Linked DNA regions of Homo sapiens. The protein of the gene in region 4 purifies or fractionates together with the protein of the main gene of each other region. This does not show direct contact. Each region holds a gene or a part of one and is shown on either strand. Other genes may lie near its edges. The genes, in order: RREB1, KDM6A, ARID3B, GRHL1, TRPS1, TOP2B and WDR43.

Region 1 (3,500 bases), on a different chromosome or scaffold from region 4:
GGATTTCATCTTGTATAAAAAATACCAAGAACTTCCACACACTATGTCATTTTCTTCTTTTTGCTTTTTTAAATTCATGTCAGGCTCAGTGGCTCATACCTCATACCTGTAATCTCAACACTTTGGGAGGCTGAGGTAGGAGGACTGCTCCATCCCAGGAGTTTAGGAATTTGAGACCAGCATGAGCAACATAGAGAGACCCTGTCTCCAAAAAAATAAAAAATAAAAATTCATTGTTTAAAAAGGAAATCTGGTGGGGCGCGGTGGCTCATGCCTGTAATCCCAGCACTCTGGGAGTCCAAGGTGGGCAGATCACCTGAGGTCAGGAGTTCAAGACCAGCCTGGCCAACATGGTGAAACCCCATCTCTACTAAAAAAAATACAAAAATTAGCTGGGTGTGGTGGTAGGCGCCTGTAATCCCAGCTACTCGGGAGGCTAAGAGAATCGCTTGAACCTGGGAGGCGGAGGTTGCAGTGAGCCAAGACTGCGCCATTGCACTCCAGCCTCGGTGACAAGAGTAAAACACTTCGTCTCAAAAAAAAAAAAAAAAAAAAAAAAAAAAAAAAAAAAACAGGAAACCTATTCACATGGTTCACCTTTGTGTTTCAGAACACCCACCCCATCTTCCTGGTTATCTCCCCTATTTCTGAAGACATATCTACCTCTTTTATGAGAAAATTAAGATTTTGATTTTGTATATTCAGAGAAATGTTTTGTTTTTTACACTGAAGTGTCAGAATAAAGGGAGCTCCCTTAAAACAGTGAAAATGATTATTTTTATAAATATGATCTAAAATCAACTATTACCACGTGTATACTGCACATACACAGACACATACAAACACATAAAGCAAGATTTATACCCTGTAGATTTCTGGCTTGGTATTCTGTTTTGAATCCTACGAGTAATGGAAAAAAGAGAAGCTAAATTATACACAGACCAACACTCCTATTAACTCATACCACTAATGAAACAAAACTCTAACTAAGCAGAGAAAATGGGCCCACACATTGGAGCTCTGAAATGATTTTGGTCTTTGATCTGTGTGCCCATCTCTCCTATTTAATGTAAACTTCAAATCAAGAGCCATGAAAAATGGTTATAATTAGTAAAGGCCCCAGTGTGACAGCTTTTAGTGCAACCAGGCATTAACAAGGAGTTTTTTTCACTTTTACATTAAGCTGAGCCAACTTTTATTTTAGAATTTCTGTAATTCAAAATTCTTTCCCACCAAAGAACTTAATTCTTTCCCACCTAGCACCACCTTCTGCATGATGGGTATGCTGAAATCGTTAGTTCATGTCTATTTCCTTCATTGAATTTGTAGCACTATTTAGGCCTTAGCTTCCAAATTACATGTGGCTATTCTCCAAAATCTTCAGAAACTCTCATTTTTGTATCAGAAATCAACACACAGTGGTGAGTGAGCACCAACTATGCAATCGTTCTAGGTGCAGGAGATGGGAAAATATTCTTGAAGTGAGAGAAACATGTTAAGAGATAAATTACAACAGACAAGACTTGACAGATGGGGGTAAAAGTTACTCACAACAGAAGAGCTAATTCTCCATAGAAGAGGTAGTATTTAAGCTGGGTCTTGAAAAAAAGAGTACAAAATTTTTATTGCTGAAGGAAGGGGATGGGGATGCAACAGAATGAACAATCCAGGCAACAGGAGGCAGTAAGAATCAATTCAGTGTGGCAGTGGGGTAGAAGAGAGTGACAAGAGCTGAGACTAGAAATTCAGCTTGGAAGCAGACGAAGTTCCTTGTATGCCAAGTTAAGGAGTTTGGATTTCTTCCTGTAGACAACAGAGAGCCAAGAGATGTTTTTAAGCAGGCAAACACCACGCACGGCTTTAGTTCTGATGATTCTGGCAGCAGAGTGGAGGATGAACTGCAGTAAGGAGAAACTGGTGGCAGGAAATTAACTTGGGAGGCGTTTGTGACTTGATGAGGGCCTTAGGTCAGAAACGATAGAACAGCCAATGCCAGGGCCAGACTGGAGTGTGGTTTTGCAGAGGGCCTGGTGACTGATCGAACATTGGGGCAGGACAGACATACGTCAGGACGGCAGTAAGACTCCTGGCCTAGAAGGCTGGGTGGATGGTGATCACCTTCCAGAAGGAAGGGAGAGGACTTTCATTTTTACAAGTACCTGCAGGGTAAGGTACTTGCAGGGTGATCAGGGTGACAAAAGGTTCAAGCTTGGGAGAAGTTGTAAATGGAGATATAGAGTTGGGAGTTGGCAGTTTATAGGTTAGACGAGAAGACAGAAAAGCACCAGAACGCAGAGTGCGTTCTGCAGGAACAGGACTCGTTACCACGTATGGGACTGCAAAGGTGGCTGCAGAGCAATGGCCCTGAGCACCATCAGTGCGACTGACACCAATGGGACACTGACTAACCGCTGGTTTAGATGTAAAAAGAGCTATCTTCAAGTATTGCACATGTCTATAAAGTGGGAGCCCAGGCCACTCTAGGGGTGACTCTGCCTACCACTGGCAGCCCTTCCTTTTCTGGAATTCGATCTCTGTCTCCCTGTTTTCTTCTCCCCTCTATGGTTTCCTTACCTCCTGTCTGTGTGATAGGCTGGGGGGTGGGGGGGAAGGCCAAGGGTCAGATCAGTTAACACTTGCTGGCTAAAAGATCACTCCTGACACTATATTAGACATTTCTGGTCTGAGGCCTGGGGTCCCTTAACATAAAAATAATCACCGCCTCCTACCCTGCATCCCCTTACTCCCTCCCTATCCCTCCCAACCACAGCAGCTGGCAGCCATCCACCCTCTCAAGAGGAGATGTATGGACAGAGCACCCGGCTCAGAAACACTGCCCTATAAAAACGGCAGACGGTTATGTAAGAATTTTGCAAAAACTTGAGAAAATAAAACAAGGGAGACTACGAATGCAAAAACATTAACTGTTAAGCAAGTAAGGGCTAGTTCAAACACTTAAAAAAAAAAAAAGGTATACTCCACATAACTTAGAACATGAAGGAGGCTGCAGATGACAGCACCAGAGCAAGTTTCCCAAATAACTGAAGAGGTGACTGGGAAAGCTGAGCCATCGACCACAACAGCTTCACAAAGCCAATGAATCTAGTTTGTTTTAGAAGTAGATGACTTCTAGAATTTTCATTTACTACGGGGTTTTCAAATATATTTAATGCCACTTAACATTTTCCTCAACCCCAAATTTTCTGTGAAACTTCGAACTTGCCAACCATGGTACCTCAGAGGCAAATAAGAGCTTACTTGCTTTATGGAATTTCAGATTTCTAAATATATCGCATGCAATACAGGCAGCGCACCCAGTGGACTTGTAGATGAGACCCAGGCCACGACTACTGTACCTTTCAAGCAGGCTTTCTCAACCTCAGCTCTGCTGACGTATGGGGGTCGTTCTGTGCACTCCAAGATGTGGAACAGCATCTTTGGGGTCTATGCACTAAAGGCCAGTAGCAGCTCCCCGCTGCCGCCCCCCCCCCCACCAGAAA
Region 2 (3,500 bases), on a different chromosome or scaffold from region 4:
CTGAGACAGGAGAATTGCTTGAGCCTGGGAGGCAGAGGTTGCAGTGAGCCGAGATAGCATCGCTGCACTCAGCCTGGGTGACAGCTGACATAGTGAGACCCTGCCTCAAAAAAAAAAAAAAACTTAACTGCTCCAAAATGTGGAGAACCGTTGAAAACAGGAGTTCATTAAACTACCTTCAATACCTGTACATACTTTAAATGATGCATAATAAAAAGTTTTAAATGTTTTAATTACTCCATCATTTCAGAGCTCACAGCACTTTGCATGTATCTTTATTATTACACTTAATACATCATATGATCACTCAGTCTGTCAGCCTCTCCCAACAGACTGACTGCAGGACAGAGGCCAGGTCTTATTGGTTGCCCCAGAACCTGACACAATCCCTCACCCACAGCAGCTCAACAAATGTTTCACCAATCAATCAAGCAAAGCAAAAGCTTTTGTAGTTCTCATTCTGATATTTGAAATTCAGAAACCTAAAATATTTATTTAACTACTGTATCTTGAAAACAAATTTTCCCTAAAAATAAAAACTATCCAGACTCAAGCAACTATGATTCATAAAGTTCTCAGGAAAAATTACCTCTTGTGTCACATATTATGTAATATTCTATCACAGAACACTATAGCAGTATCAAAATACAAACAAAATTCACATCACATACTCAGCTAAACATGTTTTCTACTCATTTTCCAAGCAATTATTTCTTAACTTCCATACAGCAAAAAACAAGGTCCACAGATATTTGAGATTAAGAAATTATTTTACATGTAATAAGGGCATCACGGTTATGTTTCAGAAACAAACATCTATGGATTAAATGCTGTGACTGATTGCTGAGATGTGCTTCAAAATAACATGAGTGAGGGGCAAAATATATATAGATGAAACAGGACTGGTCATGAGTTGCAAACTATTAAAGCTGGGTGATGGTTGATTTGCAATACTTTCTGAAAACACTGAAAATTTTTCCTAATAAACTTTTTTTTCAAAAAGAGAGAAAAATCTAATGAACACGTAATAAATTTGTAGTTTAAAAATAACCCTTTGTCTAAAACAATTTCTTCCACTGTTCTAAACTAAAATGAATTAGATGACCTTATATAATACCCTTAAGTATAACCCCAACTTTCTTCCTGAGAATAAACTTAGCAGCAGCATCTTCTATTTATTCTAACAAAGGCAAAATACTCAGCCAGGCATGGTGGCTCACGCTTGTAATCCCAGCACTTCAGGAGGCCGACGCGGGGGGATCAACTGAGGTCAGGAGTTGGAGACCAGCCTGGCGAACACAGTGAAACCCCATCTCTACTAATAATACAAAAATTAGCTAGGCGTGGTGGTGCACACCTGTAATGTCAGCTACTCAGGAGGCTGAGGAAGGAGAATCGCTCGAACCCTGGAGACGGAGGTTGCAGTGAGTCGAGATTGCGACATTGCACTGCAGCCTGGGCAACAAAAGTGAAATGCCATCTCAAAAAAAAAAAAAAGACAAAATAGTACCACAGAGAAAATTACAAAAAGCATACAAGAATACATTCACAATGGAACACCACCAACAGTTTTAATAATATACAGAAGTAAACAAATGATGGAATATAAGGAAGAAATAGGTAAGAGAAAAAATAATAAAAGCTTATAGAAGAAAGTTGCAAGCAGTCTACAAATTAGCTCAGAAACCTAAAACTGTCTAACAAGGGATTACTCCCACCCTTCCAGGTGACAGTTTTTTTGTTGTTTTTTGTTTTTGAGATGGTGTCTTGCTCTGTCGCCAGGCTGGAGTTCAGTGGCACGATCTCGGCTCACTGCAATCTCCATCTCCTGGGTTCAAGCAATATTCTCCTGCCTCAGCCTCTCGAGTAGCTGGGATTACAGGTACGCGCCATCACACCCAGATAATTTTTGTATTTTTAGTAGAGACGGGGTTTCACCATGTTAGCCAGGCTGGTCTCGAGCTCCTGACCTCGTGATGCCCGCCTCGGCCTCCCAAAGTGCTGGGATTACAGGCATGCGCCACCGCGCCCGGCCCAGGTTACAGTTCTTAATCAGGTCCCAAGTATCAGCCTGTGCCAAATCAGACTCAAAATAAAGTCAGCAATGAAATGCTAAAGATCAAAATGAAGAATGAGCGCAGTGACTGTCACAAAGCCATCTAAAACACAAAGAAATAGGACCTAATTGGGTACATCTCTACTCCATTCACTCCTACCCTCACTGAAGGAACATCAAGTTCAAAAGTATCCCAACTTCAGACTGTAATTAAAATGCAAGAAAGGCCTTTACAAGTATCTCTTCTAACTATAGACATGGTAGTTTAAACCCATTTTTAGTCAACCAAAATATAACATTCTGGTGTACTATCAGAGTACTTTTTTTTGTTTGTTTGTTTGAGATGGAGACATGCTCTGTTGCCCAGGCTGGAGTGCAGTGGCGCGATCTCGGCTCACTGCAACCTCCGCCTCCTTGGTTCAAACAATTCTCCTGCCTCAGCCTCCCAAGTAGCTGGGATTACAGGCGCCCACCACCACGCCTGGCTAATTTTTTGTGTTTTTAGTGGAGATGAGGTTTTGCCACTTTGGCCAGGCTGGTCTCGAACTCCTGACCTCAGTTGATCCATCCGCCTCAGTCTCCCAAAGTGCTGGGATTACAGGCACGAGCCACCACGCCTGGCCTTATTGTATTATTTTTAAGGTAATATATGTCTACGGTGTTAAAAAAAAAAAAAAAAGCAGTACAGAAATCTATAAAACAGTTTAAAATCTCCCCTCCTTCTCACCCCAAAAGTGTCTTGTACTCCAAGATGACCATTAAGTCATCCTGAGTGTCCTTCCAAACTCTGTCAGAGAATTTAAATTGACCCATGAACACTCATTTAAGAATCTCAAGTTAAGAACTCATAACAAGGTAAATATTACTACAAAATGAAATCAAAGAAGGACAGAACACACAGCAGATCATCCTTTGAACATCTGCTAAAAGCTAAAATGTGATTTTTTTTTTTTTTTTTTGAGATGAAGTCTCGCTCTGTCGCCCAGGCTGGAGTGCAGTGGCACCATCTCAGCTCACTGCAACCTCTGCCTCCCAGGTTCAAGCAATTCTCCTGTCTCAGCCTCCCAAGTAGCTGGGACTACAGGTGCACGCCACCACGCCCGGCTAATTTTTATATTTTTAGTAGAGACGTGGTTTCACCATATTGGTCAGGCTGGTCTCAAACTCCTGACCTCAAGTGATCCGCCCACCTCAGCCTCCCAAAGTGCTGGGACTACAGGTGTGAGCCACCACACCCAGCCTTAAAATGTGATTTTTAAATCATGTTTTCCTAAACAAAATTATAAGATGCCTTGCTAACATCTAAATCAAGAAATACCATCTCCAAGAAACACAATCAACAAACAATCCCCATCTTTAAGAGCCATTCTAACTTGTGAATTGTTAAATTTACCTTTCTCATAAACTTTCAGAATATTTCACATTTTTCTTCTCCCAAAGATGG
Region 3 (3,500 bases), on a different chromosome or scaffold from region 4:
CCCATCTGTTGCAGTCAATTCACCCAAACATGTTAACAAGCAAGAGATACAGCACAAAGCAGCAGTTATGGCCCGTCCCTGTCTCCCACTGGACAGCCATTTTATCACCTGCAGCTGCGGTCATTCGGGGCGGCCTGCTGTGTGCTGCATCCCTCAGAGCTGTCTGCTTCCTCTGTGGGCACAGCCTGCTGTGTCAAAGCTGCTGGCCCCTCTCACAGCCCACCTGGGTGTCTCCGGGCCTTTCAAACTCAGGCTATTTTCTTTCGTTTCTTTCTTTCTTTCTTCCTTGCATTTCCCTTTCCCTTTCCTTCTTTCTTTTGTTTTTTGAGACAAGGTCTCACTCTGTTGCCCAGGTTGTAGTGCAATGGCATGAACTCAGCTCACTGTAGCCTTGACCTTCCAAGCTCAAGTGATCCTCCCACCTCAGCCTCCAAAGTAGCTGAGACCACAGGCGCATGCCACCACACTCAGCTAATTAAAAAAAAATGTTTTTTTTGTAGAGACAGGGTCTCACTATGTTGTCCAGGCTAACTCAGGCTATTTCCAGTGACTCCTGTGATATCTACTGCTTACCTTTCATATTAGCTATGGAGGCCAAGTCCCTGACCTGCTGCTGAGGTCTATGAGGCTTTTCCTTGGTCCCAACTAGCAAGATCTGCCTCCTGTGTCCCCCAGACACTCCACAAGTGACAAGTCACAAATGTCTAAGGGCCCTTGTTCTCACCATTCTGTTAAGAACAAAGACAGCCGGGCTCGGTGGCTCATGCCTGTAATCCTAACACTTTAGGAGGCCGACGCGGGCGGATTACCTGAGGTTGGGAGCTCAAAACCAGCCTGGCCAACATGGTGAAATCCTGTCTCTACTAAAAATACAAAAAATTAGCCAGGTGCAATGGTACATGCCTGTAATCCCAGCTACTTGGGAGGCTGAGGCAGGAGAATAGCTTGAACCCAGGAGGTGGAGGTTGCAGTGAGCCGAGATGGTGCCACTACACTCCAGCCTGGGCTACAGAGGGAGACTTTGCTTAAAACAAAAAAAACAAAAAAAAACAAAAAAAAGACAGGCCAGGTGCGGTGGCTCATGTCTGTAATTCCAGTACTTTGGGAGTCGGAGGCAGGCGGATCACTCGAGGCCAGGAGTTTGAGACCAGCCTGGCCAACATGGTGAAACTGTTTTTACTAAAAAATATAAAAATTAGCCAGGCATGGTGGTGCATGGCTGTAATCTCAGCTACTTGGGAGGCTGAGGCACGAGAATCACTTGAACCCGGGATGGGAAGGTTGCGGTAAGCTGAGATCGACCACTGAACTCCAGACTGGGACTCTGTCTCAAAAAAAGGAACAAAGACAGCAAGCCTCACATGATTAAAACTGTAATCTGAGGCCCAGCACGGTGTGGTGGTTCATGCCTGTAATCCCAGCACTTTGGGAGGCTCAGGCAGTTGGATCACTTGAGCCCAGGAATTTGCTACCAGCCTGGGCAACATAAGGGCCTCGTCTCCACACACACACACACAAAAAAACAGAAAAATTAGCTGAGTGTGGTGGTGCACACCTGTAGGCCCAGATTCTCAGGAGGCTGAGGTGGGAGGATCACCTGAGCCTGGGGAGGTCAAGGGTGCGATGAGCCATGATTGCGCCACTACACTCCAGCTTGGGCAATAGAGTGAGACCCTGTCTCAAAAATAAATAAAATAATTAATTAAAATAAAAGTGCAATCTGCTCCCACCCCTCTTTTAAAATTTTCTTCTTCTTTTTTATTTCTGAGATGGAGTTTCGCTCGTCACCCAGGCTGGAGTGCAATGGTGCGATCTTGGCTCACTGCAACCTCCGCCTCCCGGGTTCAAGTGATTCTCCTGACTCAGCCTCCTGGGTAGCTGGGATTACATCTTCTTTTTTTTTTTTTTAAATTACAGGGATGGGGTCTTGTTACGTTGCCCAGGCTGATCTCAAACTCATGGTCTCAAGTGATCCTCCCACCTAGGCCTCCCAAAGTGCTGGAATTATAGGCATGAGCCACCATGCCCCACTCCCAACCCTCCTGAACCACTCACTCTAGTTCGGACTACCAGATAAGAGTTTTCTAGAAAGGAGATCGCTGGGAATAACAACCTCTACACTATCTTCCTGCCTCAGTCTCTCCTCTCTAGCCCAACTATACACTGCCACGGCAAGTTTCCTGAAAGCCAATATTTTGCCTTCAATAACTCAGCTATATCTACAGACTGAAGCGCTTTTTGGGCAAACATGGCTCTTCAGAGTCTCATGCCAGCTGACCCATCCAGGATGGCCCCTGGCTCTGGGCCATCAACAAGGGTTCTTCCAGCTACACCAGGGCCACATGTGTCACAGCATTTTTTCCTCCACCTCCATGGTTGGGTCTGATACACTAGAGCCACAGCTCTTCTCAGAGCCTTTCTCTGCACTGCAGGCCAGGGTGAGGCCCCAGCACTCACTCCTTTGGCACTCAGTCACAGGAAACAATGCTACCTAACACGGCTTGCTCTCATGTACCTGACTGGAGGTAAGATGATTTTCATAAAAAGTTTTTTTTTTTTTGAGACAGGGTCTCACTTTTTGGCCAGGCTGGAGGGCAGTGGCGCAATGTTGGCCTCCATGACGGCCCCCAAGTCCCCGGCTCGAGCAATTTGCCCACCTCAGCCTCCCAAGTAGCTTGGGACTACAGGCATGCATCACTATGCCTGGCTAATTTTGTTTTCATTTTTTGTAGAGAGAAGGTCTCACTATGTTACTGAGACTCACCTGAGCCTCCCACCTCAGCCTCCCACAGTGGTGGGATTACAGGCGTGAGCCACCACACTCAGCTAAGAGTTTTTCTTGCAGAGGATATTTTACATCTTTATTCTCTTTCTCATCTTTCCATGCCAGAGGGTCTCAACGGGACAATTTTGCCCTCCAGGGGACATTTATGACATCTAGAGACATTTTTGGTTGTTGTGACTGAGGGGCTGATATTGGTATCTAGTGGATAGAGGCCATGGATACTGCTAAACGTCCTACAGTAACCAGGTGCGGTGGCTCATACCTGTAATCCCAGCACTCTGAAAAGCCGAGGTGGGAGGATCACTTGAGGTCAGGAGTTCAATACCAGCCTGGGCAACATAGTGAGACCTCATTTCTACAGAACAAAAAAGTTAGCCAGGCATGGTGGTGCCTACCTATAGTCCCAGCTACTCAGGAGGCTGAAACAGGAGAAAGGCTTCAGCTCAGCACTTTGAGGCTGTAGTGAGCTATGATCGCACCACTGCACTCCAGCTGAGGCAACAGAGTGAGACCCTGTCTCAAAATTAAAAACAAAATCCTACAGTGCACAGGACAGTCTCCACAACAAGGACTACCCATCCCAAAGTCAACAGTGCTGAGGCTGAGAAACCTTTTATTAAAGTAACAAGTGGCAGACAGAACCGTTTCCCTTCTGTTGGTAATGCCAGCAAACAGTGAAATACCTGACGTAAGTGCTGAAGACAGGACAAAGATT
Region 4 (3,500 bases):
TATCACCTCTGGACAATTTAAATTAACATTTTGTTCGATTAGAAGAAGTTCAAAATACGAAGAAAAAGAATCACAGAGTTTTTGTAATAGAGGCAAGCTTAGACATATTTAATTCAATCTCATTATGTCACAATTAGGAAATTTAAGTCTAAAAAGTTTAAATAACAGTCCCAAGGTCACAAAACTACTCTGTAGAACCAAGATTAGAACTGAGTTCTCATTCTCCTGAAAAGGAAACAAGAGCATTACAAAAGGTAAAGAAAAAAAGTAACACTAATATTAAACAGCCATCTGTGATACAGACAATGGTTTTACATGAAAATTACATACATGGCAAGAACAGAGGTCTGTGTAACGCTACTTCAGTAAATACAGATTTGCACAGGTTTGCCACTACAGCCCACAGAGAGGTTAGTTACACGGTTTAGCACGTGACTAGGGAAGACTGTTAGGCAACTGCACAGCAGCAATATCTTTCTTTTACTTGTTTTTTTCTCTACCTCCATCATCTCCAAATAATAATCAGAATCTTTTAAAGAAGATATTACCCCTTAAAGCAATTGCAGACTGAACAGTGGGGACATTCTCAGGTTAGCCAGCTACATGGCTTCTGGCCCTAGTGTCCTGTGGAAAGCCACCACGTGGGCACATGTCCCATTACTGCATGGGAGCAATGGTGAGAGCACTGGTTCCAGGAGGCCGAGGACAGTGTTTGGAACAGATCAGTAGCTGGCATAAAAATTCAAATGCTTTCGGCAGGAAGCTGATCACTGCCAAAAATAATTGGATTTAGAAAACTGGATGGCTGCACCTCTGGGAATAAAAGCGGGCTCTTGAGCTGCTTACCTATGTCAATGCATCTTTGTTTAGCGGTGTGCTGCCGGGAGTGCCAGTACTTCCAATGCCTTAACTGATCTTCTCTGCTTTTGTCTTCAGCAAAAACCACCATGATCACACTCTGTGAAAGAGAATGCATTACAACATAAAGACACTAAAGGGTGAGTATGTTTTGGAAAACGTATTTAGTACTATATTTTACAGTGAAGGCTTAAAGCTGCAATTTCAGGCGGTCATTCAGAGCTGCTTCAGACCTGGAAATGTTAGGCTCTGACTAGCTTTCCTAGAGAACAGGACTAAGAGCAGAACTTACTCGAACTTTGCTGATGGGATGATGGATTCCTTCACTGCTGCTCACCTCCTTCAAGGTGATGGGATAGAACTGGCCTTTGTTCAGGTACGTCATGGTACTGTCTCCTGGCTTCTGTCGAAGTGATTTTGAAGCTTCTAGGGTATATTCAAAGTTGTTCCTAAAGGACAAAAAAAGTCACAGGTCTCTAAATCTACTCTCGTGGAAGCTTGCTATACATCATATTATAAATAGCATTTGCTATCTTTTTCACTTAAAGAAAATCTGAAACAAAAGTACTCAGCAGCTAAAAATTCTCAAGTCTCTCAGAGGTGGAAGTACAAATTGCCGATTAAAAATTCTATGATGTGATGGATGTCAGTAATCGGACATCCTGAGTTTGAGGGCTCGAGATATTAAAGATACTGATAGGTGGAAAGGACTTTGGAAGGAACTTCTCACAAGACATGCTGCCAATCTGATATTTATCCAGCAGAGGTTTCAGACAGGTGGCTGGTGTTCCTCTGACTAAATTCCTTTTGGCCTATATAGCATTTTTTTGTTGTTCCTACTTGTAATTTAAATGTCTTTAATAGGCAGGCACTCCACAATTCTCGACATTACCTATTACCTAACACTACCACTCATATATGCCCCTAAAGTTGTTTAAGAACCTTCCCAGGCCACGGCTCAGCAGATTACACCTATTTTTGTAACTAAAGTTTTATTAGCACATAGCCACATCATTTGTTTACACATTACCTATGGCTGCTTTTGCACAATGGCAGACCGGGGTAGTTGCAAAAATATACAGAGGTTGTATGGCCCACAAAGCCTGAAATATTTACTCTCTGAGTCTTTACAGAAAAAGTTAGCTGACCCCTATCCTAAACCCTAAAGGTATTTCCATTTGGGACTCCTGCATCTTGAGGCAGATCTATAAGGGAAGTCTCAATTCCCATAAAATCTTAGACACTTTTAAAACTGTAAAATATAACACATGTAAAAAACACATAAAACAAAATATGAGTTCCTAATTAACTTGGAAAATATTCATACTCCCAGAGTGAGATACAATTTTGTGAGGTCAAAAGAAAGTTGTCAGCTCAGAAAAAAGTTGACTTCATTTATTTTATCATTAGTGAGGCTGATTTTAAAAAAAAAAAGCTTTTATCACTTGATATTACTCCTAAATTCTCACCTAATTATATATATTTGGCAACAGAAAGGACCTCAGAGACCTAATTTAATCCCCTCATCTCTCCTATTAGATTCCATTCTACTACCATCACATAAAGAATCCAAAAGAAAGAAAAAGCACCAACACCAAGAATTAAGGAAACTTGAAACATAGTTCAAAGAGTTCAAAATTAAAAGCACTGAAGCAGATGTCCTCTACCCAAGACTGTACCACAGTAAAAGTAGTAAGATAAGGGGAAAGCCTGCTAAAGCCACCTTTGATTTATCAAGTTAACAAGAAAGGAATAAGTTATAAAAGCTGCAAATTAAAAATCAAATTAAAAGACATCTATTACCCAGAAACACTGTCAAAAACATAGTCCTCTGAATTCATGCCAGGCATCCGCAGACTGAGATCCGAGGGGAAGAAAACCTGAAATATCAATGTGATAAGCCACAACTATTTAACTGGTTATCATGCTTACTAAAGACCAAGCTCTGGTACCGCATAAAAGTATGTGGCTTACAGCAACCCACTATCCTTTCCATATTTATTTTTGAGTAAAAATTTTGATTCTACAAATACTTAAAAAATTAAAACAGAGAAAATATCCACTTTTATATGCCACTCAAGTAAATTACAACAAGCTGTGTAGGTACTCCCACTAAGTGCTTCTGACTCACGACCCCCTTTTCTGTCTTTCACACACATCCCAACTCTGTTCAAACACTAGGACCTGCAACCAAAATTTCATGACTTTTAAAAGTCACCCTATCATTATACCAAGTTAAGACACAGCATCAAGTTCACACCACAGCTGAAGAGATGTGGTGCATTTTCTCAGGAAAGGCTAACATTCTGCCCCTAACTCCATACGCAGAGATGGATGCTCTTTACCCCACCAAGTCACTAAGTATGGTTTCTAACACCTTTAGTCCCTAACTTTTAGCTGAGTGAGGTATTCATCACCATAAAACCCCCAGAACTATTTGGAATTAATTTGTAAACCTCACACAATGCATTTGTGCTCTCCCTGACTACATTACCAACCAAGAAACACCAAGCAAAGATATAATAACTCATTTTATATGAGCTCCAGGGAGCTTGTTTGGCACTGGGAGAAGTGCTGAAAACAGACTAGGAGAATCTACCTGTGGTCAACAGAAGATTATGTATGGGGTTCTCTTTCTCCAG
Region 5 (3,500 bases), on a different chromosome or scaffold from region 4:
TTTTATGACACTTATTACTCTTGTAATCATCTAAGTGTCTCATCTTCCCTACTAAACTGTAAGTTCCATGAGGGCACTGACTATGTCTTCTCTTGTATATTCAATGCCTGGTACAATAGGATTTTTGAAATCAATTAATTAAAGAATGAATGCATACATGAAATAAAGATACATATCCTATGCTTATCTCTAGATATTATAAAAGATTAACTGGGAAAGTTAATGTTTATAAAGAGAATAGAGTGAAAGCAGAAGGAAAACACAAACTTCCCACATCCATTTAAGAATCTGGAATAACTCAAGCAGTTTTACCTGCTTGGAGGAGCAAGTCTACATCCAAAATCACACATAGTACAAAAATTCTCACCTTTAGATTACTGTTTGTATGCTAAACAAGGATGTTGCAGAATTGTTCAAAGCCAGAAGAATATATAATCTCATTTTAAAATAAAAATGAGCAACAGGTTCTCAAAATTTTTTTGCAGAATAGAGAATAGGATATATTTACAATAGCATCTTTCATTTAGCTCTGTCAAAAAAATATAGGATGTGGAGTCATATTTAGTAAGGATAAATAAATGGACTACGGTAAATTAGTAAACTCATCAGCATTATTAGAATCACTGTGAATTTAAAAAGACAATCAGTAAATGGTATAACACAAGTATGAAACATGAGCATACAGTCCAAAAGAAGGAACCAAATTAAAATCTACAGTGATCACAGCTGTAACTATATCACCTGCAAATCTGTGATGAACTTTTATGTGGTCTTCTCCTATAACTTCCCCAAGTCATTGGAATCACTCTCAACAATTCCCGGTTCAGCCCTCTTTCTATGGATTTTTTCTATTATTTTATTTGTATATTCCTCCCGACCCCACCCCCCATGCCTCACCTGTAGTGTCGGGAAATCTCTTCTTCCACTTGGGTAATAAAATCACATTTGGTACATGAGTGTTCTTTGCTTTCCTTGACAGACTGCTGCCCATCCGATCCTTGCAGGTGATTTGCTTCTTGTTTGACATCCGATGCTTGGGACTCATGCACACTTTCATAGTGAAAGAGGAGTACATCTACGTCAGGGGTGGTGAATGAACACTGATGGCACTGATGTTTGACTCGCGAGCTTCCAGCCGCCCCAGGAGACAAGTGCAGAAGCAAGAGTGCACAGTGGGAACAATTACTTTTTCTACAAGCAAACGGATAAGTAATTTCTCCAAGGTGCTTTTCTGGGCTGCAAAGTCCTCTGGGACAGAATGGACAGTGTTTAATGGTACACTTGTGAATGTTATGGAGCTGTTGATAATGACGGAGAAGTGGCCCCACTACAATTACATCAGGGCCATGGCTTTTGGAATATCGGAAGTCACAGAACTGACAATTATAGCTCGTTACCATATTATCCTCGGCTCCCTTGCTGGAGAAGTCCTTCTTTTTAGCCCCACTCGAGCTCTTGTCTGTCTTGGTCATTGTCTCTCCTTCTGAACTTTTGGCTAGATCATTCTGATTAATGACAGAGCCCCTGGAAAGCTTATCATTTAACTCTGGATTAAGGCCGCCTGACTGCACTGCTCCGTGCTGCTTGCCATAATGTTCTAGCAGTTTAAGTGAGCTAGATGACTCACAGCTGAAACTACAAAATTTACACCAGTAGTAACTGGTGGCCTCTGTACCATTTTGTCTAGAGGAATCGAGGGGCTTTATGGGCACTGAGTACCCAACAGGAGTGTCATCTCCTGCTTTGACTGTTATCTTGTCCTGCCATTTTCCCAAGTCTCCAGAATCACTGGATTGAAGTGCAGGGATGGACTTGTTAGAGTTTTTCTCTGAAGGTTTTGCAACCTCAGAGGAGGGGAGAGAAGCTTTTATTTTGTTTGGGTGAGTCTGAAGAAAATGTTGTTCTAATTCGGTGGATGAGTTGCCCATATAAGTGAAATTGCAGAATTTACAGCGGAAATACTTGGTGTTCCCTTGGCAATCTGGTGTTTTCCGTCCAATGCCAATGAATGTTCCACCTGAAGTCACCTGGAGAACAGAAGAAATGGACTTTACTTCCAAGGTGTCATTAATTCAATGGGCCCTCTGCAGGGGAGGGGGAGGGTACTGCCAAGTATTCCACATCAAAAAATACAATAGTACTCCTGCTTATTATGAAATCACTTGAATAATCAGAGCCAAATAAATTCACTCTTCATTTCTCAACAGCTACTCTTTGAGAGGCTCATTATGTTATACACTGTAGGCCAAAGTAACAGGTGAAGGTAAGTAATAAATGCACTATAATTTGAAAGACTTAATAATACATTTTTTAAACTAAGAAAACAATTTTCAACACAGTACATTTTACTATTGCCTCCTTCAAATCACATTCCTACAGAAGCATCCAAATCACATGGGATTTCTTTTCAAAAGGTGAAGCGTTACTGTCAAAACTAGAGGCACTTGCTCAAAAATTACTCAATGCAGATGTTCTCCAAGGAAATATTCTGTTCAGTTCCTACAGCAATGAGGCTGCAGGCAAAGATGAGGTCTCTGTTTTAGGTAAAATAAAGGTGCTCCAATGACCACCCAAAATGGCTTATAATTAAAGCACAGTGAAACAAACAAAAAGATGAATTGAGTATGCAGGAAATACTAGCAAAGAAGAACCGTGTAAATAAAGAATTTTGAATGTTTCCCCATCTAGAACAAACAAAAAAAAAGAAAAATCTTCCATGCCTTATTTGATTAAGGTTCTGTTTCATTGCAAAGGGCTCCCAACTTCTCACATGAGTAGGTCATGATGTCTGAATGGTAAAATAAAATAATTCCACCATAAAAAATCACTACAACTCTGCTTTCTTTCCCAAATTATGAAATTACATGGAATCAGGACTATGAAAGCCTTCAAAGGGCACTTTGCATAAAATCCTTCCTCCATTCTCAGTGTGCACCTCAATAGGCAGTACAATTAAGCCACCACTGAGCAGCCAAAATTCAGAGTTAAAATAGAGTTTTTTGAATGAAATACTCCAAAAAGGGAAAACAATTTCTCTTCCAACCACCAGGGAATTTTTAAATTTTCCCAGCAACCAGATGTAATATATTAAGCAAGTGGCATAATCATCTTCTGCCTTCTTCAACAGCTGTTCAAAAATGACACGTGTGATCGCTGTTCATATCCAAATCACTGCATGAGAAAAGTCTCAGGCATCTCAAAATCACGTAAAGGCTCTATTTGAAATGCAAATAATATTGCTGTAGTACACTGAGAGATATGTTTGTACCTCTATTGTACAGGACTAAGATTGAAGTATTCTTTTTGCTATTAAAAAGAGATGTGACCTTGATCAAATTACTTAATCTCTCTGGCCAATAGCTTCTTCAACTGGGGCAACCTCCAAATTTATGTCCAGTATTATAGTTCTAAGAAATGTGCATTAATATATAAACAACTCAACATTTACTGTACATTAAGATAGGATCTTACAGAAGTTTTCCACAGCCTTTAATCAAAGG
Region 6 (3,500 bases), on a different chromosome or scaffold from region 4:
CTCAAGATAATAAGGCTTCTTTACTTTTTCTGAGGTGATTCCTAACTAATTGGTCAAAATAGGCATTATGGAAGCATTTAGGTGGACAGGCAAATGCTTATCTGTGTTTATGGGTGTGAGTGTATGTGTAGTGTTTTAATGAGAGAAAAGAAATAATGAAATTTTGAAAGCTTGAAATTTGATTTTCATGGCAATGTGAATGTATATACGACAGTTTTCTAAATCTGTAAGGGCACCAGTGTGATTGCAGATTGGTTGTTACCTGAGAGATTAAAACCGTCATAAGAACAAATTTAATCAGTGTGTATACTTCTTGTTTCGTATTTTTTTTGTGTATGGAATTTTTAAGGTCACTTAATTGATTCACTATCATTTTTTAATACACACATCTATACATTTAGACATATTTGGTACATATTCTATATGTATACGTACTCATTTTTGACAGTGTGTCAAAAGAGTTGTGTAAACATATTTATTTACATCCAAGTAGCTATTTTAAAAGTTTGTGCTATGGTGTTAGGGAAGAACGCATTACACTAATTTGAGTGCAAGAGTAAACTGAAGGTAAGCCTGTCTGCCTTTTAAATTAGTCTTCAAAAATTTATTTAAAAATAGGAATACTTACTATTCTTTTAGATTTAAACATTATTACTGATATTCCTGAAATGGTTAATAGTATTATTTGTGTAGGTACTAAAATAATACAGTGGGACATTTTCATATCTCATTTTAAAATAAATTGGCAGCATGTATTTTTGAATTGGTCAGTTATGTTTTAAATATTTAGCATTTGGGACTTTTAATTTTTACTACTTTATGCACTTCTGTGTTATTTCACCACATAGTTAACATTTTTGGTGTATAACTGATACATTTTATTTTTAGCTGTTTGTATATTGTGGATTATTTGGTCACAAAATAGTAACATAAGATCAATTGTCTAGCTAAAGGGAAGTCATCAGTTAAAAGAGTCAAAGTTTACTGAGAGATCTTTATAACATCTCTTTACTAAAAGAAGGCTTTGCAATTTTTAGATTCAGCTAAATTTGACAGTAATGAAGAAGATTCTGCTTCTGTTTTTTCACCATCATTTGGTCTGAAACAGACAGATAAAGTTCCAAGTAAAACGGTAGCTGCTAAAAAGGGTATGTACTTATATTTGATTGAGTTAAGCATTGGATAGAGATAGTTAATGTAAAAGGAAATGTAATTTAATTTGAAACTATTTGCATTTTTTTATCATAAAACAATTAAGAAGTATAAGTGCTTATAAGGAGAACCTCTCGTTTTCTAGCCATCTGAGGGCGTTAATAAAATTTCTGTAAGACTTAATTTTAAAGCTGTTGTAATTATAAAATAATCCCGTGCATTACTATCTAAAGATAGCTTTCTACAAAAGCTCCCTTGTGGTTAGGTTGTAATGGAGATTAAAATTTTGTCTTGCTAGTAGCTTGCTTCTGTTATCTATGTTGATCATGACTCAACTCCTTATGTGGAGGGATTGGTCAGCTCAGTTGAGGTCCTCTTTTTCTATGTGAGTCATGCAGCTTCTCTCTTTTTCACAGCCTTAGATTGGCCACAAAACACTTTGAGTTGATTAATGAATCTCTTACTAGTACCAAGATATATGTACCGTGGTCTTTTTGAAAGAGGTCAGTATTTGTGCTTTGTGTTTGAAGGATGACACTTAAAAAAAACCCCACAAATCTAATTGAGATGTGTGCTATTTAAGACAGCAAGTAAATAATATGGATTGTTCCCTCAAGGATTTTAAAAATTCACAACAGACAACATCATTACAGACACATGTATTGAATGTAGCAGAACAACAATTTTGAAAAGTCCTGCTTATTCTGAATGCAGTAGAACCATATTGAGAAACTGGTTATTTACAAGAGTCTCTGTAGCCAACACACTGGGTGACCTACCCATGTCCCTTACCACTTAGTGCATATTGGGCAATATCTGCCTTTCGTTGCCTGAGGACTTCCTCTTTGCCACTGTGCTGGAATATTAACACCCCCCTGCTCCCAGCTGCCTTTAACTAGCAGATTGAGGAAAGTTGGTCTATAAATATCTCAGTGTCCTTGCCTCTCATGTGAGCCAACTGTGGGATGTGTGTTTCACACTGGGACTCAAAAATTTCTTATGGAATTAAGCTCCTAGAGTGATGATTGGCTTGGTAACTTACCTATTACTGGCTGCCTTCTCTTCATTGTCTCATTTTTGTCTCCCCCTCCTTTATCTCTCAAATAAATACTTATACTTGAATCCATACTCTAGGATTAGGCAGATTGGCCCAAATCTGGGGAACCCACATTGAGATGGACCCTATAATTTCTCTTTTTTAAAAAAACAATCAGGCTGGGCGCAGTGGCTCACACCTGTAATCCCAGAACTCTGGGAGGTCGAGGCAGGCAGATTGCTTGAGGTCAAGAGTTTAAGACCAGCCTGGCCAACATGGCAAAACCCCATCTCTACTAAAAATACAAAAATTAGCCTGGTGTGGTGGCGTATGCATGCCTGTAGTCCCAGCTACTCAGGAAGCTGAGGCACAAGAATCGCTTGAACTTGGGAGGCAGAGGTTGCAGTGAGCTGAGATGGCACCACTGCACTCCAGCCTGGACGGTAGAGTGAGACTCCATCTCAAATAACAACAACAGAACAATCAAAAAGCACCTTTAAAAAATAATCTTCATATGAGCATCTTATAAACACCCTGAAAACTTGGGAGCCGTATTACTTCCTGAAACATACCCCGTTTCCTTCATCAAACTGTTCACCCATATTTAACCTAATGAGTTTAGCATGACCAAAAAGCTAGATTATCATGGTACCTATCCTACTTGCTTCCTTCTTCAGTAGCTGAACTGGCCTTGTCTAAGTTGAATAGGTAGACTGCCTGTGTGGTGTGATTTCAGGGACCCCAGCAAGTCCTCAGCTTTCCTTTAGCCTCCCTTACGAAATATAATTCCAATAAAATATCATTTCAAGAAGAGGATGCATCATATCCCTCTGTGGGATTGTCTATGTTAACTCCAAATTGCGTATGTTACACAAGTTAAATTCTGTAGTTCCAATAGTTTACAGCAGAAAGGCAGCTATAGTACTCAGATATCTGACCTGTTTGCCTGGTAGAATTGAAAGTGCCATGTAACTCCAAGCCAAGGAAAAAAAGTGGTTCCTAGAACACCTGGCTAAGTTTATACTCCCTGCTAGGAGCTGCCCTGTGGTTCTTGTGGTAGATATAGTCATGAAGACTCAGGTGGGAAAAGCCACACAATCTGGGTGCCACTTTCCTAGGGCTCCTCCTGCTCTTGGCTAACGAGGGGCCTTATTTGTAGTGTCTCAAATTGCGACTGGAATACATTTTCCATAGAATCAGTGTAGGTTTTTTTTTTTTTTTAAACAAAGTCTACAGTTAATATATTTTCTTCCAAATTAGGTTTTCTTAATTACAAAAAGTGATTTATCAGTTTTTTTTTTTTCTTTTTCTT
Region 7 (3,500 bases), about 19 Mb from region 4:
CATCTTCCTCTTCAACGTCCTCATCTTTTTCACTTTCACTCTCCTCCTCATCTTCATCCCAATTATCCTAGTCGAAATACCAACAAGGAAAGCATTCATGAAGGTCTCATTCTTACAGAGTATGAGGATATAAAGGCCGATGTATATACAGGGAACAAATCACTCACTTCAGAATCCTTATCTGCTATTTCATCATCAGACTCCTCTTCAGAAGACTCTGTAAGGGGAGAAAGAACCCAGCCTTAATTTTAGAACAAAACAGAGGGTACAGCCTGGAAATTAAGCAGAACCAGATTCCTGAATTTACTTTTAGAAATATTATTTATATTTAGCAATCATCCAACTAAGAAATAACATTATTTTATTATTTTTTTTTTTTGCAGGCTGGAGTGCAGTGGAGCAATCTTGGCTCACTGCAACCTCTGCCTCCCAGGTTCAAGCCTCAGGCTCCTGCCTCAGCCTCCTGAGTAGCCGCCACACCCAGCTAATTTTTGGTATAGACAGGGTTTCACCATGTTGCCCAGGCCGATCTCAAACTCCTGGACTCAAAGGATCCGCTCACGTCTGCCTCCCAAAGTGCTGGGATTATAGGCATGAGCCACCACACCTGGCTAATTTATTCTTACATGTATAAAAGTATATTCATTATATTATTCCTTCAAGATCTCACCGGTCCAAACCAACTAGCCAAACCCTTACAAAAATCTCATCTTTAAATACTAAGCCCTATCAGGGCCACCAAATAGCCCCAGTGGATGAGGAAAAATTCAACACAGAAAAGCTGGCTTATAAACGAAATGGAAGAATTAGCATTATTTAACCCATAAAGTACTAATAATGAAATATTAGCAACTGATATATTAGATGTATGATTGTTGGGGGAAAACATGCAAACGTTAAAACAAAAATTAACACAGCTAGATTATTTTCTAAGCACTAAGGAAGATATATCTCACAATGGAGAGGAAAAAACTGATAACAGGCACAATGTGGTTCTTAGTGTGCTGCAATATGAACGATCAGCATTGATGCAACCCTCCAAAAATAAAATCCAATCAAACCTTTAGGCCTCACATCCAGTTTAAAGGAACTGTAGCTTAGAGGAGCAAATTAAAAGAAACCAAAAGGAAGCAAATCCACAAACATAAGGTGGGGCATTCTGTGAAATACACTTCCCAGTCTCTTCACCAAGTCCATGTCATGAAAAAGGGAGTTCTTAAAGACTAAAAAGAGTCTTCAGAAACACAGTAGCCAGATTCAACCCCATGATGCAAAACTCGAGTCTAGTTTGGGAAAAACAGCTTTAAAGGATATTTTACGGATAACTGGAGAAAGATGAAGATAAACTGGGCATTGGATAAAACTAAGGAATTGATTTCATTAGGTGTGCTAATGTTATCCAATAATACAGAATGGGATTCCTATTTTTTTAAGATATTCTAACATTCTTCTTCTATCTACTTTTTCTTAAGAAAATAAATCATTATCTCCAGATGAAGTTCCCTTACATGCCCATCTCCCTAAGCCCATTCCCCAAAAGAAACCACTATTGTGAGCTTCTCATTCTCCAGTATGCTGTTATAACACATACATCATACTACCCATGAATTACACATGTACATATTCATGAAAGACATATGCAGCAGTTCCCCCAATATGTGTTCCTTTTCCCCAGTTTCAGTTTCCCCTGGCAACTGCAATCCAAAAATATTAAATGGAAAATGTACCAAATCCAGGATCCCTAAGTTTTAAATTGCGCCCTGTTATGTGCAGCGTGATGAAGTGCCGTGCTATCTGGCTCCGCCTGGCCGGAGAGGTAAATCATCCCTTTGTCCAGCTTCGCTGTCTACACTAGCCACCCGTTAGTCGTTTAGTAGCCACCTCAGTTATCAAATCGAATGTTGCAGTATCGCGGAGCTTATGTTCAAGCCACCCTTATTTTGCTTACTAATACAATTACACGATGCTACACAGAAGGTATCATTTTTTGACTTGGTTTTGTAATCAAACTTATGCGTGTTAACTCGATCTCAACTCCAGGCACTCTCACCAATGTAGTGTTATGCTAAAGGAATAAACCATTTTAAACATGCTCCCACTAATGAAGAATTATGTTGTTCACAAGTCTTTTTCTTAATTATAAAGGCTGCAATGAACATACTTATATAATCTCTACATATATGTTTTAAAGCTATGTTGTCAAGCCTTTTAGCCTTAAAATGCTTTCACATTCTTAAAAAACTGAGGTCTCCAAAAAGTTTTTGTTTATGTGGGAAAAGTCTATCTATATTTATCACATTCAAATTCAATTTTTAAATTTAAGAATATTTAATCTGTTTACAAATGCCCATCCATTACATGTTAACACAAATCAATTTAATGAAAAACAGTATTTCTGTGCTCTCTTCGGCAGCACATACACTAAAATTGAAAAATGGAATTTCCAAAACAACAACAAATTCTACTAAGTAGAATGGCACTATTAAAAACTTCTCATATCTGCTTCTCCACTCTATTTTTTGGATATGTTGTTTTATTTGAACTATATGAAGAAAATCTAGCCTCCCACAGATGACCGATTGAAAAGCGGAGGACATCATGAGCCGCTCAAAGAGTTCTGGGCATCCCCACAGGTCCTCTGTTCATACTTGGAGAAGTATTGGTCACTGGGATACACACAAGCACTTTGGGATCACTTTGGGACTGCACTTGATGAATGGAAGGATATGCAAATTGTCAACTTTGAGATTACAAAGTTGCTCTCTAAAAAGAATGCACATGTACTCCCACCACAGCATGAGCTCCCATTTCCCAAATCATGGCCAACACCTGACCATTTTCACTCTTTCAAATTTATCCATTTCTCACAATATGGAATGTGATGTGTGATGTGATAATGGTAAAATTTTTTGTTCCATATAAATTATCAGTGTTTCTAACAACTTACTGAGCAGGCTATCTTCTCCACAATGATACAATACACACCATCAATAAACACACCAAGAGTCCACAGAACTACGGGTTTTTCAGGGGTAGCTATTGCCAATCTATTGGTCTAGCTGTCTATTATTGCACATTAACTCTGTAACCCTACACTTCTATAATCAATTTGCTACTCAGGGTATTTGAGGATGATCTAAAATGTTCCCTTTTTGACATTTCCAGGTTTTGTTATCAAGATTATACTTGGCTCATAAAATGACTAAATTGCCAGTACATGACAAAAAGGACAGCCCAGTGTTGTGGGTCATGCTTCTATTCCCAGCACTTTGGGAAGCTGACGCGAGAAGACCGTTTTTGAGGCCACGGTGTACAAGATCAGCTTGGGCAACAAAGAGACCTCATCTCTACCTTTAAAAAAAGAAAATTGGCCAGGCATGGTGGCTCAACAGTCCCAGCTACTCTAGAGGCTGAAGCAGGATGATCGCTTGAGTGTAAGAGTTTGAGGCTGCAGTGAGCTATGATTGACCTCGAGCCACTGCACTCCAGCCTGAGCAACA

Evidence for each region.
Region 1: the proteins of GRHL1 (region 4) and RREB1 purify together in Homo sapiens (co-immunoprecipitation; one large-scale study listed by IntAct). This does not show direct contact.
Region 2: the proteins of GRHL1 (region 4) and KDM6A purify together in Homo sapiens (co-immunoprecipitation; one large-scale study listed by IntAct). This does not show direct contact.
Region 3: the proteins of GRHL1 (region 4) and ARID3B purify together in Homo sapiens (co-immunoprecipitation; one large-scale study listed by IntAct). This does not show direct contact.
Region 5: the proteins of GRHL1 (region 4) and TRPS1 purify together in Homo sapiens (co-immunoprecipitation; one large-scale study listed by IntAct). This does not show direct contact.
Region 6: the proteins of GRHL1 (region 4) and TOP2B purify together in Homo sapiens (co-immunoprecipitation; one large-scale study listed by IntAct). This does not show direct contact.
Region 7: the proteins of GRHL1 (region 4) and WDR43 purify together in Homo sapiens (co-immunoprecipitation; one large-scale study listed by IntAct). This does not show direct contact.

The regions. Positions count from the first base shown.
Region 1 is NC_000006.12:7,114,461-7,117,960, reverse strand, and holds part of RREB1 (ras-responsive element-binding protein 1), read right to left. Parts: intron 1-3,500.
Region 2 is NC_000023.11:44,879,688-44,883,187, reverse strand, and holds part of KDM6A (lysine-specific demethylase 6A), read right to left. Parts: intron 1-3,500. UniProt on the Homo sapiens protein: Histone demethylase that specifically demethylates 'Lys-27' of histone H3, thereby playing a central role in histone code. Demethylates trimethylated and dimethylated but not monomethylated H3 'Lys-27'.
Region 3 is NC_000015.10:74,575,720-74,579,219, reverse strand, and holds part of ARID3B (AT-rich interactive domain-containing protein 3B), read right to left. Parts: intron 1-3,500. UniProt on the Homo sapiens protein: Transcription factor which may be involved in neuroblastoma growth and malignant transformation. Favors nuclear targeting of ARID3A.
Region 4 is NC_000002.12:9,961,693-9,965,192, reverse strand, and holds part of GRHL1 (grainyhead-like protein 1 homolog), read right to left. Parts: intron 2,739-3,500; coding exon 2,662-2,738; intron 1,308-2,661; coding exon 1,151-1,307; intron 959-1,150; coding exon 847-958; intron 1-846. UniProt on the Homo sapiens protein: Transcription factor involved in epithelial development. Binds directly to the consensus DNA sequence 5'-AACCGGTT-3'.
Region 5 is NC_000008.11:115,602,976-115,606,475, forward strand, and holds part of TRPS1 (zinc finger transcription factor Trps1), read right to left. Parts: intron 2,028-3,500; coding exon 898-2,027; intron 1-897. UniProt on the Homo sapiens protein: Transcriptional repressor. Binds specifically to GATA sequences and represses expression of GATA-regulated genes at selected sites and stages in vertebrate development. Regulates chondrocyte proliferation and differentiation.
Region 6 is NC_000003.12:25,602,408-25,605,907, reverse strand, and holds part of TOP2B (DNA topoisomerase 2-beta), read left to right. Parts: intron 1-1,037; coding exon 1,038-1,148; intron 1,149-3,500. UniProt on the Homo sapiens protein: Key decatenating enzyme that alters DNA topology by binding to two double-stranded DNA molecules, generating a double-stranded break in one of the strands, passing the intact strand through the broken strand, and religating the broken strand.
Region 7 is NC_000002.12:28,943,167-28,946,666, reverse strand, and holds part of WDR43 (WD repeat-containing protein 43), read right to left. Parts: intron 218-3,500; coding exon 168-217; intron 68-167; coding exon 1-67. UniProt on the Homo sapiens protein: Ribosome biogenesis factor that coordinates hyperactive transcription and ribogenesis. Part of the small subunit (SSU) processome, first precursor of the small eukaryotic ribosomal subunit.